Linked DNA regions of Homo sapiens: region 1 is linked to region 2. Evidence: fine-mapped expression QTL. A gene starts in region 2. The other region holds a variant in brackets. All regions are shown on one strand. Distances are between the middles of the regions. Region 1 overlaps UBOX5 (U-box domain containing 5). Region 2 holds the start of DDRGK1 (DDRGK domain containing 1).

The links. PIP is the estimated chance that this variant, and not a neighbour inherited with it, causes the effect.
Region 1: its variant is the best candidate, but not a certain one, in a credible set for the expression of DDRGK1 in whole blood (INTERVAL, PIP 0.67).

What each region holds. Positions count from the first base shown.
Region 1 is chr20:3,148,230-3,156,556 of GRCh38, forward strand. All of the region lies in intron 1 of UBOX5 (U-box domain containing 5), which reads right to left. FASTKD5 (FAST kinase domains 5) reads right to left here. Exons shown (of 2, transcript NM_021826.5): 2 at 1-1,031. The coding sequence starts at 841. UBOX5-AS1 (UBOX5 antisense RNA 1) reads left to right here. Exons shown (of 7, transcript NR_038395.1): 7 at 2,309-2,638. Among named protein-coding and RNA genes, the nearest start is that of FASTKD5, 7.5 kb to the right of the region's middle. The variant C/CA (reference allele first, on the strand shown) is at 3,871.
Region 2 is chr20:3,201,231-3,209,500 of GRCh38, forward strand. DDRGK1 (DDRGK domain containing 1) reads right to left here and starts at 3,452. Exons shown (of 9, transcript NM_023935.3): 1 at 3,307-3,452; 2 at 1,983-2,186. The coding sequence starts at 3,397. ITPA (inosine triphosphatase) reads left to right here and starts at 8,268. Exons shown (of 8, transcript NM_033453.4): 1 at 8,268-8,270. RefSeq lists enhancers at 1,542-2,140, 3,144-3,363, 7,863-8,270.

The sequences.
Region 1 (8,327 bases), 53 kb before region 2:
GCTGAGACAAGGATAGATCCTTCCAGTGCAAATTAAGATAACTAGAAAAAATGTTTAAAAACCTAGGTACTTTGCGGCCTAAGTACCTCCAGAGATCAGCCACCAAAAGGAGCTGATCCATATTCATCTCCCATACCTGATGGCAACACTTGGTCTCATACACATCTAGCATTGAATGGGAGTGAGGGATTCCTAAAATGACAAAAGCTTTCAAAACATTGATCAGATCTTGGGTATCAAAGAGCTGTATCTTCTTCACACTCAGCTGGCAGAGCAGAGCAAAGCTGGTACTGCCCAGCAAGACAGGATGCTGCTCTGCAGGCAAAGAGCTCAGCTTACACAAATAATCAACAATGACTTGAGCCTGGAGATTATTTTGATTAACTCTGACTTTGTGCAAAATTAGTTCACCTTCTGAAACAGACAGGAGCTGAGAAGTCTCAGATGCATTATAGCTGTGAACACGGTATTCTGGTCTTAGCTGTAGGAAAACTCGCATGTTTTCAAAGGAATCAAACACTTCTACGTCCTCTTCATCAACTCCTGTGGCCCTGGGTGAGCCCAGCTGCAATGTACTGGCCTTAGAGGAAGAAGTCTTGCTGAATTCCAAACCTGGGTGGGCACTGCTGGTTGTCAGGATTCTCCGAGAAGAGAAGGTGCTACATATGTTCTTAACTTTTTTGGCAGAATGGCAGAGGCTAATGTGTTCTGGAGGGTCCTGTCCCCCATGCTGTGTGCTGCTCACATTCCAGTATGACACACTTCGGACTGCACCAAAGGCAGAAGGACTGCAAAATGCTCGGTATCTTACAAGTTTTAATGACTTGAGAGTAGCTGCCATTCTGGTGTCAGTATTGATCTCTTTGGCAGTCAGAATACAGTCCTCACAGATTTGACCAGGCAATTTCTTGTTTATATGGTGCTTGATTAGAGCTGGACGGGGAGGTGTTCCACAAAAACTGCCTGGAAATCTTCAGCATATCACAAGAGCCAGGGATCACAAATGACTGGGTCAGAATTGGTGCCAGATACTGAAAAAAGGGTAGATGAAGAATGAGTGGCTTCTACCTATAAAAGCATCCAAATTTACACATTATAAAAAACAGGTTGAAACTACACTGCTGTCTACTCAAATAAGTTCAATGCTAGTAAATGCCCAAACCACATGACAGCATATATCAAGGATAAATTCTGCGGTCTGTGTAAAGGCCTAGGAAAACCCCCAACCCAGGGTACCCGTGGGCAGTTCCTGGACTGCTGCTCACCAGACTTCCTTCACTGTACAAGGCAAGCAGTGACGGCTAAAGAAGAGACGGTGCTCCGCTAACATTTGATAGGAAGAAGGAAGGCAGATTTCTAGAAAGAAGGCTGGGAACAAAAGTGAGCAACTCCTTCCATCTCTTTGATATCAAGGCAAACAGGTCCTACCTGAAGAATGTTTATAAAAACTGCTATGCTAACAGCACTAAGTAAAAAGTGGGATCTGGTATAAAAGATAATTAGTTGGCTGGGTGTGGGTGGCTCATGCCTGTAATGCCAGCACTTTGGGAGGCCGAGGCAGGCAGATCACTTGAGGTCAGGAGTTCAAGACCAGCCTGGCCAACAAGGCGAAATCCCGTCTCTATTAAAAATACAAAAAATTACCCAGGTGTGGCAGCACACACCTGTAATCCCAGCTACTCAGGAGGCTGAGGCAGGAGAATCCCTTGAACCCAGGAGGCAGAGGTTGCGGTGAGCCAAGACCGTGCCACTGCACTCCAGCCTAGGCGAAAAAGTGAGACTCCATCTCAAAAAAAAAAAAAAAAGATTTAATTAGTTATACCTACGATAACCCTCCCTGTTCTTATAGCGCAAAACTGTTAATTCCAAAATTCTGTCATTCTAATGCTGTTCTTTTACTTTTTAGAAGATGCCTACTCTCCTCTTCAGGAAGCTTATAACAGAATTTGAGTCACTATTAGAGAGTAGTCACAGAGTAATGGTGTTATTAGAAAGTATACTAAAAAACTCACTCATTTTGGTGGGAGAAAGCAGAAGGTTGAGGGTCTGCTCACTGTCACTTCACGGGTGGGAAGCAAAGAGTACCCCAAAGCTGGGCTCAGGGTTCAGGGAACGCCAATTGACGCAACTGCCCCGCTGACATCTTCTGGAGAAGGCAGCTTAGCAATGTTTCCAGTGAGTCTTTATTCTGCCTGTGAGCAGTATAATGCCCATTTTTCTCCCATGGCAGAAACCATGAGAGACTATGAAATTGATTCTGCTGTGCTCTCGCTTTCCTTAATGCTTATTCTTTTTCTTTCCACTTAAGTGCCAAAGCCTGACAAGCAAGACCCAAGGAGACCTGAGTTGTCAACTGATGTACCAGACAGGGCTGTTGCTGCAGAAAACTCCATAAAAGTTCCAAGGGTGCCAGAATGACTTTCTGAAATGCCTGCCTAACTCTGCTGTCAGCCACTTTCTTCCAGAGCCCATAGCACATCATCATTTAGTTCATCAAAGAACAGCAGGGCAGGTCAGTGGCTCTGTTCCAGTAGCCCAGCTACACAGGCTTCTCTAGATGGCAGGAACATATGTATGAATTTCTGTGTGAATCAGAGCAGAATTCTCTCACATTAAATTTTTATACACTTGGTTCTTTACTGTGGCTTGTGGACCATTCTTTTTTTCTTTTTTGAGACAGTCTCACTCTGTCACCCAGGTTGGAGTATAGTGGCATGATAACTGCAGCTTTGACCTCCCACTTCAAGCAATCCTCCCACTTCAGCCTCAGCCTCTTGAAGTAGCAAAAACTACAGGTGCACACCACCAAACCCAGTTAGTGTGTGTTTGTGTGTGTGTTTGTGTGTGTGTGTGTGTGGAGATGGAGTCTCACAATGTTGCCAAGGCTGGTCTCAAACTCCTGGGCTCAAGTGATCCTCCTACCCTGGCCTCCTGAAGTGCTAGTATTACAGGCATCAGCCACCATGCCTGACCACCTGTGGACCATTCTGCCCACCAAATTTCAATCTGTGGTTCAGATCAAGGGTGAGCAGACTATGTCCTGGGGCCCAAATCTAGCTCTTCACATGTTTTTGTAAACAAGGTTTTTTCAGAACATAGCTAGGCCATTCATTATATATTGTCTATGTCTGCTTTCCTGCTACAAGAGCAGAACTGTGTAACTGTGGCAGATTGTATGGCCTGCAAAGCATATTTAGTGTTTGGTCTATTACATAAAAAGTCTGCTGATCTCTGCTACACACTATTTCTATAAATGCAGATAGCCAGCTTTTTAAAAATTAGAAAAACTTGGCCACGCCTATAATCCCAACACTTTGGGAAGCTGAGGCAGAAGGATTGCTTGAGGCCAGGAGTTTGAGACCAGCCTGAACAACACAGCAAGACTGTCTAAAAAATAAAATAAAATAAAAAATAAATTAAAAAAATAAAAAATTTTAATTAAAATTGGAAAAACTATAGAAAAATAGTACTAAAATAATGTTTTTCTTTAATATTTAGATGATAATTGAAGATTACAGTCCTCAAAATAGTCATTAGGAAATCCAATTAATACTACAGCACAGGAAAGGTGGGAACAAAAGAGACAGCAGGATGGCCAGGCGTGGTGGCTCATGCCTGTAATTCCAGCACTTTGAGAGGCCAAGGCAGGCAGATCACTTGAGGTCAGGAGTTCGAGACCAGCCTGGCCATCATGGTGAAACCCTATCTCTACTACAAATACAAAAATTAGCCAGGTGTGGTGGCATGAGCGTGTAATCCCAGCCACTCGGGGGGCTGGGGCACAAGAGTCGCTTGAACCCAGGAGGCGGAGGTTGCAGTGAGCCAAGATGGTGCCACTGCACTGCAGCCTGGGTGACAGAGACTCTGTCT[C/CA]AAAAAAAAAAAAAAAAAAAAAAGAACCAAAAAAACAGAGATAGCAGGTAACAGAACTCTCCAGCTGACAGAACAGGGCTTTTAAGAAGACCTATTTTTGGCTGGGCACAGTGACTCATGTCTGTAATCCCAGCACTTTGGGAGGCTGAGGCGGGTGGATCTATGAGGTCAGGCATTCGAGACCAGCCTGGCCAACATAGTGAAACTCTGTCTCTACTAAAAATACAAAAAATTAGCCAGGCGTGGTGGTGGGCGCCTGCAATTGCAGCTGGGGCACCTGCAATCCCAGCTACTCGGGAGGCTGAGGCGGGAGAATCACTTGAACCTGGGAGGCAGAGGTTGCAGTGAGCTGAGATAGCGCCACTGCACTGCAGCCCGGGCGATAGTGCAAGACTCTGTCTCAAAAAAAAAGAAGAGGAAGACCTACTTTCGAATTTGGAATTTAATTTAATCCACCACAATGTGCAACTAAAGCCATATACTGTTCAAATCTGTAGTCTTCATCTCATTTGAGGAAGGAGATCCTGGCCAGGCACAGTGGCTCACACCTATAATCCCAGCACTTCAGGAGGCCAAGGTGGGCGGACCACTTGAGGACAGGAGTTCAAGACCAGCCTAGCCAATATGGGGAAACGCCATCTCTACTAAAAATACAAAAATTAGCTGGGCGTGGTAGTGCGCCTGTAATCCCAGCTACTTGAGAGGCTGAGGCAGGAGAATTGCTTGAATCCAGGAGGCAGAGGTTGCAGTGAGCTGAGATCATACTACTGCATTGCAGCCTGGGCGAAAGAGCAAGACTGTCTCAAAAAAAAAAAAAAGTAGATCCTAAAAAAATAGATTTAAAGGTCCCATTTTTTAAATAAAATAGCTGTGCCATAGTAAAGCGAAAAACAGAAAATGTCTGTCTAGAAGGAGGCTGGTTTACAAGATAAATGTGTGGCAGGCATCAACACATGAAAAAGTACACACTAATATTGAGTGGAACAAATAGCACATAAACAAGAATTAACAAATATCTCTATAAATGATATTAATTTTAAAACATTAAATAATTAAAATTACTTCAATTAATTCTACCTAAGAGTACTTAATGAAATTACTATACGTGGTCTGGAAATAAAAGAACCATCTCCTAGAACATCAATGTTTGGTGCAGCTCCAGTGTTTTGAATTCATGTGACACTTTTTGATTTGTAAAAACACAGGCTAAGATCCAAGATGGAAATAACCAGAGCTATGCCTTAGGGCCTCCTCTGTGCCAAGGCTTAGAGCCTTGTAAAGCTGCTTTATCTGCATTAGTTCCCATCCTTATAACATCTCTGTAATGTAAGTTTATAATCCCCATATTACTGATGAGAAAGAGACCACAAGATTAAGAAACCTGCCAAAAGTTACACAGCCAAGGGATTGAGTGGAGCCTAATATTAAAGACTGTCTGACTCTTCAGCCCACATTATTGGTGTACTAGAGAGACAAGAATGGATGTCAGAAAACAGGTTCGGGGGGCAGTACGGGGTGGGATGGCTGAACAATCTATGGTCTTCTAGGATTTCCAGGTGCCAGGGAGCTGGAGGGTTAGAACTAGGTAAGCTTGAAAGTCCCTTCCACCTCTAACAGTCTACGATTCTATCACTACGGTTTATACTGCAAGTTGAGTATCCCTTGTCCAAAATGCTTGAGACCAGAAGTGTTTCAGATTTTAAACTTTTTCAGTTTTTGGACTATGTGCTTTATACTGACCAGTGAGCATTCCAAATTCAAAAATCCAAAATCTGAAATACTCCAATCATTTTTTTTTCCTTTGAGTATCATGTTGGTGCTCAAAAAGTTTCAGATTTTGGAGCATTTTGCATTTTGGAGTTTCAGGTTTGGAATGCTCAACCTGTACTTTAAAAAAGAACAAAGAGAAGACCTCAAAGGCTGAAATCTACATGAGGCAAAGAGTTCGCAGGATGCTCCAGGATCAAAGTAAGGAGAGCTACCACAATTGAAGACCTGAAAGTTGGCAGTAGAGATATGGGATCCAGAAACTAGGGTTCAATACAGAGAAGCAAAGGGAAATCCCAGGAAAAAGGTGAAGGAAGATCCCAGGACAAGAGCTGTGAACAGACATAAAGAGCAACCAGCTCATGCTGGACGACATAGACAGTACCCAGGAGAGGAGAATCATACTTCTACCGGATAATCCGGGCATGAACAAGAGATAAGGATACAAAAAGCCATGCTAATAAAAACAGTAACAAAAATTATTAATGCCAGGGAAGACAAAAAAGTTATACAAGATAGAATATGTTACCACAGGCAGGATGCAATGGCCCATTCCTGTAATCATAGTACTCTGGGAGGCCAAAGTGAGAAGATCACTTGAGGCCGGGAGTTTGAGACCAGCCTGGGCAATGTAGTGAGACCCCCACCTCTACAAAATATTTAGAAATTAGCCAAGCCTGGTGGCACACACCTGTGGTCCTAGCTACTCAGGAGGTAGAAGTGGGAAGGTTGCTTGAGCCCAAAAAGTTAAGGCTGCAGTGAGCTGTGATCCTGCTATGGCAGGGTGACAGAGAGAGACCCTATCTCAAAAAATAAATAAATAAATAAAAAGAGTAAAGAAAATATTAGTATATCATACTCCCTATTCAGTTGAGAATAATACTAACATAATTTTATTAATATAAATCTTGATATTAGCCTAACCAAAAATTATGAGCAAACTATATTGGGAGGATAAAGTGAGTAAGAGGAGGAGTAGGGGGAGGTTGATGATACAAGAGACCTAGAGCCTCAAAGTCCATAATAAAGAAGTACAATTGGACAGGTGTGGTGGCTCACAACTGTAATCCCAATATTTTGGGAGGCTGAGGCAGGAGGATCACTTGAACCCAGGAGGCAGAGGTTGCAGTGAACCAAGATCGTGCCACTGCACTCCAGCCTGGGCGACAGAGCAAGACACAGTCTCAAAAAAAAAAAAAAAAAAAAGAAAAGAAAAGAAAAGAAAAAATAAATATAGTGATGGCCAGGATCAGTGAGTGGCTCACACCTGTAATCCCAGCACTTTGGGAAGCTGAGGTGGGCGGATTGCTTTAGGCCAGGAGTTCTAGACCAGCCTGGGTAACATGGTGAAACCCTGTCTCTACTAAAAATACAAAAAGTAGGCTGGGCACAGCGGCTCAAGTCTGTAATCCCAGCACTTTGGAAGGCTGAGGCAGGAGGATCACCTGAGGTCAGGAGTTTGAGACCAGCCTGGCCAACGTGGCGAAACCACGTCTCTCCTAAAAATACAAAAAATTAGCCAGGCATGGTGGCAGGCACCTGTAATCTCAGCTACTCAGAAGGCCGAGGCAGGAGAATCACTTGAACCCGCGAGGCAGAGGTTGTGGTGAGGCGAGGTCGCACCACTGCACTCCAGTCTGGGCAACAGAGCGAAACTCCATCTCAAAAAAAAAAAGTGGGTCGGGAGAGGAAACTATTATTTAGTGTTACAAGCTCTACTGAACTATTTGACTGTTTAAACCATGTACATGTACAATTTTGACAAAAATTAAATTAAAAAATCCATGTATTATGAAGATATTATGGTATTGTTCAAGATAATGAATGGAGAAAGTAGCTTAATAGATAAGGAAAATGTTGAAAAGTTATTTTTAGTGCAAGCACTTTCTACTACCTAAGAACTTCTTTAAAGATGTTCAATAACAGAAATGATAACAAAATAAGGAATCTTAGAGGCATGAAGAGCCAACCTACAAATGGTAAACAGTGGCTACTTACTCTTTTCACTATGCAACATTTACAGTAACTCTATAGAAACTGTATCTACATACACAGGTCTGAAACAGAGGACTTCAGAAGTTGGTCTTGAGTACTGTGGAGAAGGAAAGAAAAACAAGGAAGATACAGAAGCAGCAGAGAAGAACAGTAGGGAGAAAAGACACTGCAAAGAAGCAGCAGTCAGGATGACCAGATAGCGAAAACATACCTGAGAAGGTTAGTTCCTCCTTACTCAAAGACTCTCAGAAAATCCATAGGAAAGCTGGAAAGAGAACACTATGAGATGCTCAGTCAATTAACTTCTGACTCTTTTTTTTTTTTTTTTTTTTGAGACAGAGTCTTGCTCTGTTGCCCAGGCTGGAGTGCAGTGGCGTGATCTCAGCTCACTGCAACCTCTGCATCCCGGGTTTAAGTAATTCTCCTGCCTCAGCCTCCCAAGTAGCTGAGACTAAAGGCTCACGCCAACATGCCCACCTAATTTTTTTGTATTTTTTGGTAGAGACGGGGTTTTGCCATGTTGGTCAGGCTGGTCTCAAACTCCTGGCCTCAAGTGATCCACCTGCCTTGGCCTCCCAAAGTACTGAGTACAGGCAGGAGCCACCACGCCCGGCCTGACTCTTTCAATAAAGGTCAAAGATACCTGATATGATTTCACAAAACTCCTTTCCTAGTTTAAGTGCCCCAAGTATACC
Region 2 (8,270 bases):
CGGAGATCGCGCCACTGCACTCCATCCAGCCTGGGCGACAGAGCGAGACTCTGTCTCAAAAAAAAAAAAAAAAAAAAAATTAGCCAGGTGTGGTGGTGGCCACCCGTAGCCCCAGCTACTAGGGACGCTGAAGCAGGAGAATGGCATGAACCCAGCAGGCAGAGCTTGCCGAGATCTGCTGCCAAGTGGTGTGAGCCGAGATCACGCCACTGCACTCCAGCCTGAGTGACAGAGCAAGACTCTGTCTCAAAAAAAAAAAAAAAAAGATGAGAACTTTAGATATTGCATAGCCACAAAGAAGGAGGTATCAGATTAAAATATGCAAGTGTCTCGGGGTCACAGATAGCGCTGCCTGGATATTTAAGGTACTGTGGCTGATAAGCCAGAATACAGCATAGGGGAGGCATTAGGAGAGAGGGTTGTTTTTTTTGGTTTTTTTTTTTTTGAGACGGAGTCTCGCTCTGTTGCCCAGGGTGGAGTGCAGTGGCGCGATCTCGGCTCGCTGCAAGCACCACCTCCTGGGTTCACGCCATTCTCCTGCCTCAGCCTTCCGAGTAGCTGGAACTACAGGCGCCAGCCACCATGCCCCCCTGATTTTTTTATTTTTATTTTTAGTAGAGACCGGGTTTCACCATGTTAGCCAGGATGGTCTCAATCTCCTGACCTCGTGATCCACCCGCCTCGGCCTCCCAAAGTGCTGGGATTACAGGCGTGAGCCACCATGCCCAGCCCAGAGAGGGTTTTTTTTGTTTGTTTATTTGTTTTTGGAGACGGAGTCTCGCTCTGTCGCCCAGGCTGGAGTGCAGTGGCGCGATCTCGGCTCACTGCAAGCTCCACCTCCCGGGTTCATGGCATTCTCCTGCCTCAGCCTCCCAAGTAGCTGGAACTACAGGCACATACCATCACGCCCGGCTAATTTTTTGTATTGTTAGCCAGGATGGTCTCGATCTCCTGACCTCGTGATCCACCCTCCTTGGCCTCCCAAAGTGCTGGAATTACAGGTGTGAGCCACCACGCCCGGCCCAGAGAGGGTTTTTTACCTTTCTGAATGCTGGTCTCACCTAATGTACCTTAAATATCCTGGCTAATGAACTCCAGAGTTCTCTGGCTTCTGTCTCTGGTGCCAAACCCCCAGGCAAGGGAAGTCCCATGAGGAAATTTATCCCGCCTCAAATCTGAAATCCTCCTCACAATCGTCAGGAGTTGCTGAGGATTCTGGGCTTAGTCCCTGGCCAGGATTATCCCTTTGCCCATCAAACCCTGGCTGAAATGACAGTCCCAACACTATGACTACCTCAGGGCCAGCTGCAAGTTAAAGACCCACTGATGCCTGTGCAGCAAGGGTCTCTGAACCCAAGTCTGAGCCAGAAGGTACGGCAAAGAAAGGGCCTCTTCTTGAGCTAAAGGGATAATCCCCAAAGGTACAAGGCAAAAGCCTCAAATGCCCCCAGTTTCTGAGAAACGCCCAGACGCCCCCTCCTCAGGCTCAAGCCAGCTGCCAAGTACTGGAGAAGACAATCCTGAGGGCTCTCCTGGTCTCCTGGAAGCAGGGATATGGAGGCCTCTGTGTCAACAGAATGTCTCTATCTTTAAACTGTTTTCCTGGGGTTGTGGGTGACCCCACTCCAGGAACTGCAGAAACTCTTGGCCAGGCACTCTGCCTCTAGGGTGAAATCCTCAGGGAATAAGTGTGCCCATAACAGGAAGGGTGCGAGGATAGAAGGGGTGAATTGAGGAACATTCTGAATCAAACTGAAGACCCTTGCCCTCTGCTTGGACACTGAGAGCCAAGATGAAGGTAGGGGGGGTTGACCCAGTGGAACAAATGCCAGGTCCCAAGTCCCCCCCTACTCTACCGTGTGGCTCCCAGACGTCCCTCCTACCCTGAGGCTTCATACCCTACTCCCCCACTTAGCTTTGGGGGCCCTTTTATCCCCCCCTCCAACCCAAACCCTCTCCCCACCAGGCTGGGCCCCTCTCACCTAGGATGACAGCTTCCTCCTCGTTCTCATCTGCTTCTGCCCAGGCCACCCGCTGGGCTCGACGCTGGGCCTGTAGGCGGCTGCCCAGGTCCCTCCGGCGCCGAGGCCTGCCTCCAGCTCTCGGCTCCTCAGGCTCCAGGGGCCCAGGCTGGGCCACCCGGCCTGCTCCTGCCAGCTCCTCATTGTGCAGTGGCTCTTGGCCGGCTGTAGGGAAGACAGAAATGACAATGCTGCCTATAAGCCCAGCCCGGCCCATGGCAGGAGGAGCGGCAGCCCGGAAGCCTCACCTCCTCTGCTTAGCGGCCTGCTGCCCACAGCACAAGGCCCCGACTTCTCAGTCTGACTGGCAAGGCCTTTTCCACCAGGCCCACAGCTTGGTCCCAGGCGGGGGCTCAGCCCTTCCCTCGGGCCTGTGTGAATACTCCTCTCCCCTCCCGGCTCCACCTTTCCAGCTGGCCTGTCAGGAGGCCCCTATCCTGATGTCCCCAGCTCTCATCGAGTACCCCCTGCAGGAATCCACTGATTTCTCGCCTAACACCACCTGTGGTTTTATCTGGCTCCCCAGCCAGAGAGTACACTTCCCGGCGGTGGCCGAGCCTCCCCCGGGAAGACCTGCTGGATCTCCGCCTTCCCTCAGCGTGTCCCTTCCGCTCCTGGGAGCGCGCAGGTGCTCAGAGGTAGCTTGTGGGCCCAGGGAGCAGGAAAACACATATACAAACCCGCCCGCTGACCAGAAATGGGGGGAAAGAGGGAGGATGGGTGTATCTGTTCTGTGCCCTGGCCAATGACATGGCCTTCTGATCGGGGAGCGGATTGGGGAGGGAGAGTGGGCCCTCTCCTTGGCGGGAAGGGAGAGAGCTTCAGGAATTTCCTGGAGCCGCCTCGCGCTTCTCCAGCTCGTGGGGGACAGGCAGAAAATATTCAGATGCCCCCTTCCTGGCACCTGCTCTGGAGCCAGGCTGGGAGGAATGGAAAACCCCTGCGGCCTCCCTAACAGGTGCAGAGGGAAAGGGCCCCGACGGTGACGGATGGGAGTGTGCGCCGGCCAGGGCCTCAGGCCTTTGGAGGTATGGAGTTCCCGGGGGTGAAGAGAGGGATGAGGCCAGACTCTGGCTTGGAGTCGAGAGAAAGGGGTAGCGGCGCGGCCACCGATTCCAGGTAGGGCACTGCGGAAGCCCCACCCGGCACACGACTAGCGCACGGACGCGCATGCGTCCCGCCCGCCCAGGTGCGCACGCGCAGGAGCCGCGGCGCGACGGTCCACAAAGGCTCAGAAGGCCAGAAAACCCGGTACCACCAACCCTGGTGCAGCGGCATCTCCTACCTGATGCCGCCCGGCCCCGGCTGCGAGTCAGGAAGAGGATAAAGCCGACTAGCAGAGCCGCCGCTACCAAGTACCACACAGGCGCCACCATGACGAGGGCCTCAGTGCAGAACCACTGCGTCCACCCTGAGGCCGGGATCTCATAGGCCCCGCCCCTATTTCCCAATCTAGACTCCGCCCACTACTCGGAGCCCCGCCCAGCGGCACATCACAGAGAGGCTTTAATGTCAGACATTAAAATGAGTTTGGGGGGTGTAAAGAAACCCACAATGTTAAGAGGAAATTATAGCAGACGGTATGTCCAGTAGAAAACATCTATGTATGTTTTTTTTTTTTGAGACGGAGTCTCTGTCGCACAGGCTGGAGTGCGGTGGTGCGATCTCGGCTCACTGCAACCTCCACCTCCCAGGTTCAAGCGATTCTCCTGCCTCAGACTCCCGAGTAGCTGGGATTACAGGCGCCCGCCACCACGCCCGGCTAATTTTTGTATTTTTAGTAGAGATGGGGGTTTCACCGTGTTGGCCAGGCTGGTCTCGAACTCCTGACCTTGTGATCCACCCACCTTGGCCTCCCAAAGTGCTGGGATTACAGGCGTGAGCCACCGCGCCCGGACTATATATGTTTTAAAAATCACTAAACAATCCCACATAGTGTTTATGGAAACAACCGTGGAAAAAGTACGAAAAGAGGCTTGGGACTGATGCACACCAACTTCAGGATAGCGATTACCTCTAGGAGGAGGGAAGCGGGTTGGGGTTTTGCTGTATCTGTGACACTGAATTTCTTTCTTTCTTTCTTTCTTTTGAGGGGAAGGGGAGGGGAGGGGAGGGCAGTACTGGAATTTATTAAGCTTTTTGTATACATGATAACAGAAGTAAAGATTTATTTCAGGAGCCAGGCACAGAGGCTCGTCTGTTAACCCAATACTTTGGGAAGTCTAGGTAGAGGTGAGCCTAGGAGTTCAAGACCAGCCTGGGCAACATGATGAAACCCTGTCTCTACAAAATACAAAAATTAGCCAGGTGTGGTGGCATGCACCTGTGATTCCAGGTACTTGGGAAGATGAGGTGGGAAGATCACCTGAGCCCAGGGAGGTCGAGGCTGCAGTGAGCCATGATCATGCCAGTGCACTCCAGCCTGGGTGATAGAGTGAGACCCTGTCTCAGAAAATAAAAATAAATAAAAATAAATTCAGGACCAATGAACAATGGTGAGAAAGGGATTTGAAAAAATACGGGCCAGATGAGGTGGCTCTCCCCTGTAATCCTAGCACTTTGGGAGGCCGAGGTGGGCGGATCACTTCAGGTCAAGTGTTCAAAACCAGCCTAGCTGACGTGATGAAATCCTGTCTCTACTAAAAATACAAACAATGAGTGGGGCGTGGTGGCACATGCCTGTAATCCCAGCTACTCGGGAGGCTGAGGCAGGAGAATCACTTGAACCCAGGGGGCGGACGTTGCAGTGAGCCAAGATTGCACCACTGCACACCAGCCTGAGCGACAGAGCAAGACTCTGTCTCAAAAAAAAAAAAAAAAGAAAGAAAGAAAGAAAAAGAAAAAGAAAAAATATGGGCTGGGCGAGGTGGCTCACACCTGTAATCCCAGCACTTTGGGAGGCTGAGGTGGGTGGATCACCTGAACTCAGGAGTTTGAGACCAGCCTGACAAACACAGTGAAACCCTGTCTCTACTAAAAATACAAAATTAGCTTGGCGTGGTGGTGGGTGCCTGTAATCCCAGCTACTTGGGAGGCTGAGGCAGGAGAATCTCTCGAAGCCGGGAGGCAGAGGTTGCAGTGAGCCGAGATCACACTATTGCACTCCAGCCTGGGCAACAGAGTGAGACTCAGTCTCAAAAAAAAAAAAAAAAAAAAAAAAGCTGGGCACCGTGGCTCACGCCTACAATCCCAACCAACACTTTGGGAGGTCGAGGTGGGTGGATCACCTGAGGTCGGGAATTTGAGACCAGCCTGACCAACATGGAGAAACCCCATCTCTACTAAAAATACAAAATTAGCCGGGTGTGGTGGCTCATGCCCATAATCCCAGCACTTCGGGAGGCTGAGGCAGGCGGATCACGAGGTCAGGAGATCAAAACCATCCTGGCTAACACGGTGAAACCCCGTCTCTACTAAAAATACAAAAAAATTAGCCAGGCGTGGTGGTGGGCGCCTGTAGTCCCAGCTACTTGGGAGGCTGAGGCAGGAGAATGGTGGGGACCCGGGAGGCGGAGCTTGCAGTGAGCTGAGATCGCGCCACTGCACTCCAGCCTGGGCGACAGAGTGAGACTGTCTCAAAAAAAAAAAAAAAAGAAGAAGAAAGATACAAAAATTAACCAGGCATGGTGGTGCATGCCTGGAGTCCCAGCTACTCAGGAGGCTGAGGTGGGAGAACTGCTCGAACCCAATATGCAGAGGTTGCAGTGAGCCGGGACCACACCACTGTACTTCAGCCTGGGCAACAGAGCAAGACTCCATCTCAAAAAAAATAAATAAATAAAAGAATGAAAAAGAAAGTTATCTATGGACTTGTAATTATAGATGTCAGTTGTGATCTTTTTGTTTGTTGGTTTTTTGAGACAGGGTCTCACTCACATCACCCAGGCTAGAGTACAGTGGCACTCTTGGCTCACTGCAGCCTCGACTTCCCAGGCTCAGGTGATCCTCCCACCTCAGCCTCCTAAACAGCTGTGACTACAGGTGTGTGCCCCCAAGCCCAACTAATTTTTTGTATTTTTTGTAGAGACTGGGTTTCACCATGTTGTCTAGGCTTGTCTTGAACTCCTGGGATCAAGTGATCCACTGTGCCCAAGCTAGTTATCTTACATTACAGAACACCTACTATGTACCAGGAGCTGGGATTTAAGAATGAGAGGTGAGGCTGGGCACCGTGGCTCAAGCCTGTAATCTCAGCACTTTGGGAGGCTGAGGTGGAGGGATCTCCTGAGGTCAGGAGTTTGAGACCAGCCTGGTCAATATGGTGAAACCCCACCTCTACTAAAAGTACAAAAATTCACTGGGTGTGGTGGTGCATGTCTGTAATCCCAGCTACTCAGGAGGCTGAGGCAGGAGAATCCCTTGAACCCGGGAGTCGGAGGTTGAAGTGAGCCGAGATCGTGCCACTGCACTCAAGCCTGGGCGACAAGAGCAAGACTCCATCTCAAAACAACAACAACAACAACAACAAAACACAGTGGCTGATGCCTGTAATCCCAGCACTTAGGGAGGCCGAGGTGGGCATATCACGACGTCAGGAGTTCGAGACCAGCCTGGCCAACATGGTGAAACCCCGTCTCTACTAAAAATGCAGAAATTAGCTGGGCGTCGTGGGGGGTGCTTGTAGTCCCAGCTACTCAGGAGGCTGAGGCAGGAGAATCGCTTCAACCCAGGAGACAGAGGTTGCAGTGAGCCAAGATCATGCCATTGCACTCCAGGCCAGGTGACTAGAGCAAGACTCCGTCTCAAAAAAAAAAAAAAAAAAGAAAAAGAGAGGTGAGCAAAAACAGATATGGTTTTTACCATTAGGATTTTTAGAAGAGAAAACAGAATCACACAAATGAATATCTATTTGCAGTGCAGAGGTCAGTGCTATGCAAGCAGATGAAAGGGAGCTCAGGGAAGGTTTTCCTGAGCTGGGGCTTGAGCTGGCTAAGATCCAAGAAAGGCATCCATGTAAGGTGGGCTGTTTTTCTTCTTTTCAGGCTCCTCGGGGTAACTGATGTCCCCCAAGCCCTCCTCTGCCCCCAAATCCCCATGGCCACTCCTCTAGGGACTCTGCATAATGGTTAGTGTTTCTACTTCAATAAAAGAAAACAGGTCACCACCCAAAGCAGTGGTTCCCACACATTTTTTTTCTTTTTCAGACGCAGTTTTGCTCTTGTTGCCCAGGCTGGAGTCCGATGGCACGATCTCCGCTCACTGCAACCCCCACCTCCCGAATTCAGGCGATTCTCCTGAATCCTGAATTCTCTGAACTGGGATTACAGGCATGCACCACCATGCCCAGCTAATTTTGTACTTTTTGGTAGAGATGGGGTTTCTCCATGTTGGTCAGGCTGGTTTCAAACTCCTGACCTCGGGTGATCCACTCGCCTCAGCCTCCCAAAGTGCTGGGATTACAGGCGTGAGCCACCGGGCTTTCCCACACTTTGATGAGCATCAGAATGGCCTGAGGAGCTTGGTAAGAACTCAGACTCCCTCCCTTTCTTGTCCATGGGCAGAAGTGGCCATTCAAGAGGTACTGACACAGGGGTCCAGGCGGGGGGCAGAGGGCTGAGTCTCTGGAGGAGGGAGGTCAGATGACTTGCTGCAAAGAGAGTATCAGCAGAGGTTCAGCAGACCCACCTTTGAGAGGGCACTTCCTACTTTCTGTTGTGTTTGGAATGCAAAGATCTGGCTGAAACGGTGGCCACGGAGAAGGGGTGATAGATTTGAGAGGCTGGAGGGATGAGGAAGTGAGGAACTCTACATACTGAGCTCTCAAGCCTAGGAGTGAAAACGGGTGAGAAGTTTGGGCTTGTTTTAGGCTATGCCGAGTTTAAGTTCACAGTCGAGTGGATCATAGCTGGCGGGTAAGGCTGAAGGTGAGATCAGGATGAGGGTTTGGAAGCCCTTGCCTAGAAGGAGGCAGTTTTTTGAGACAGCATAGGAGAGCGCAAACCTCCAGGGTCACAGGGCTGCAGTCTTCTCCTTTCGGAGACCCCATTGCAGAGAAGAGCGAAAGCAGGGGCGGGGTGGGGGTGGGAGTGGTCTCTTCCGGTTCTTGAAGATAGCGTCCCTTAGGCAGGAGGGGTGGGTCACTCAGTCTCCAGGCTCGGGAGGCCCCCAGCAAATCGGACGCTGTGGGCTAGGCCGCCACCGCGAGCCCACTCGCCCGATACGCGCCTTGGGGTCCGGGTCGGCTTTCCCCGGGACCCCTGGCCGGAAACTGAGCCGTTCACTTCCGCCACCAGCCGGAAGTTTTCTGTC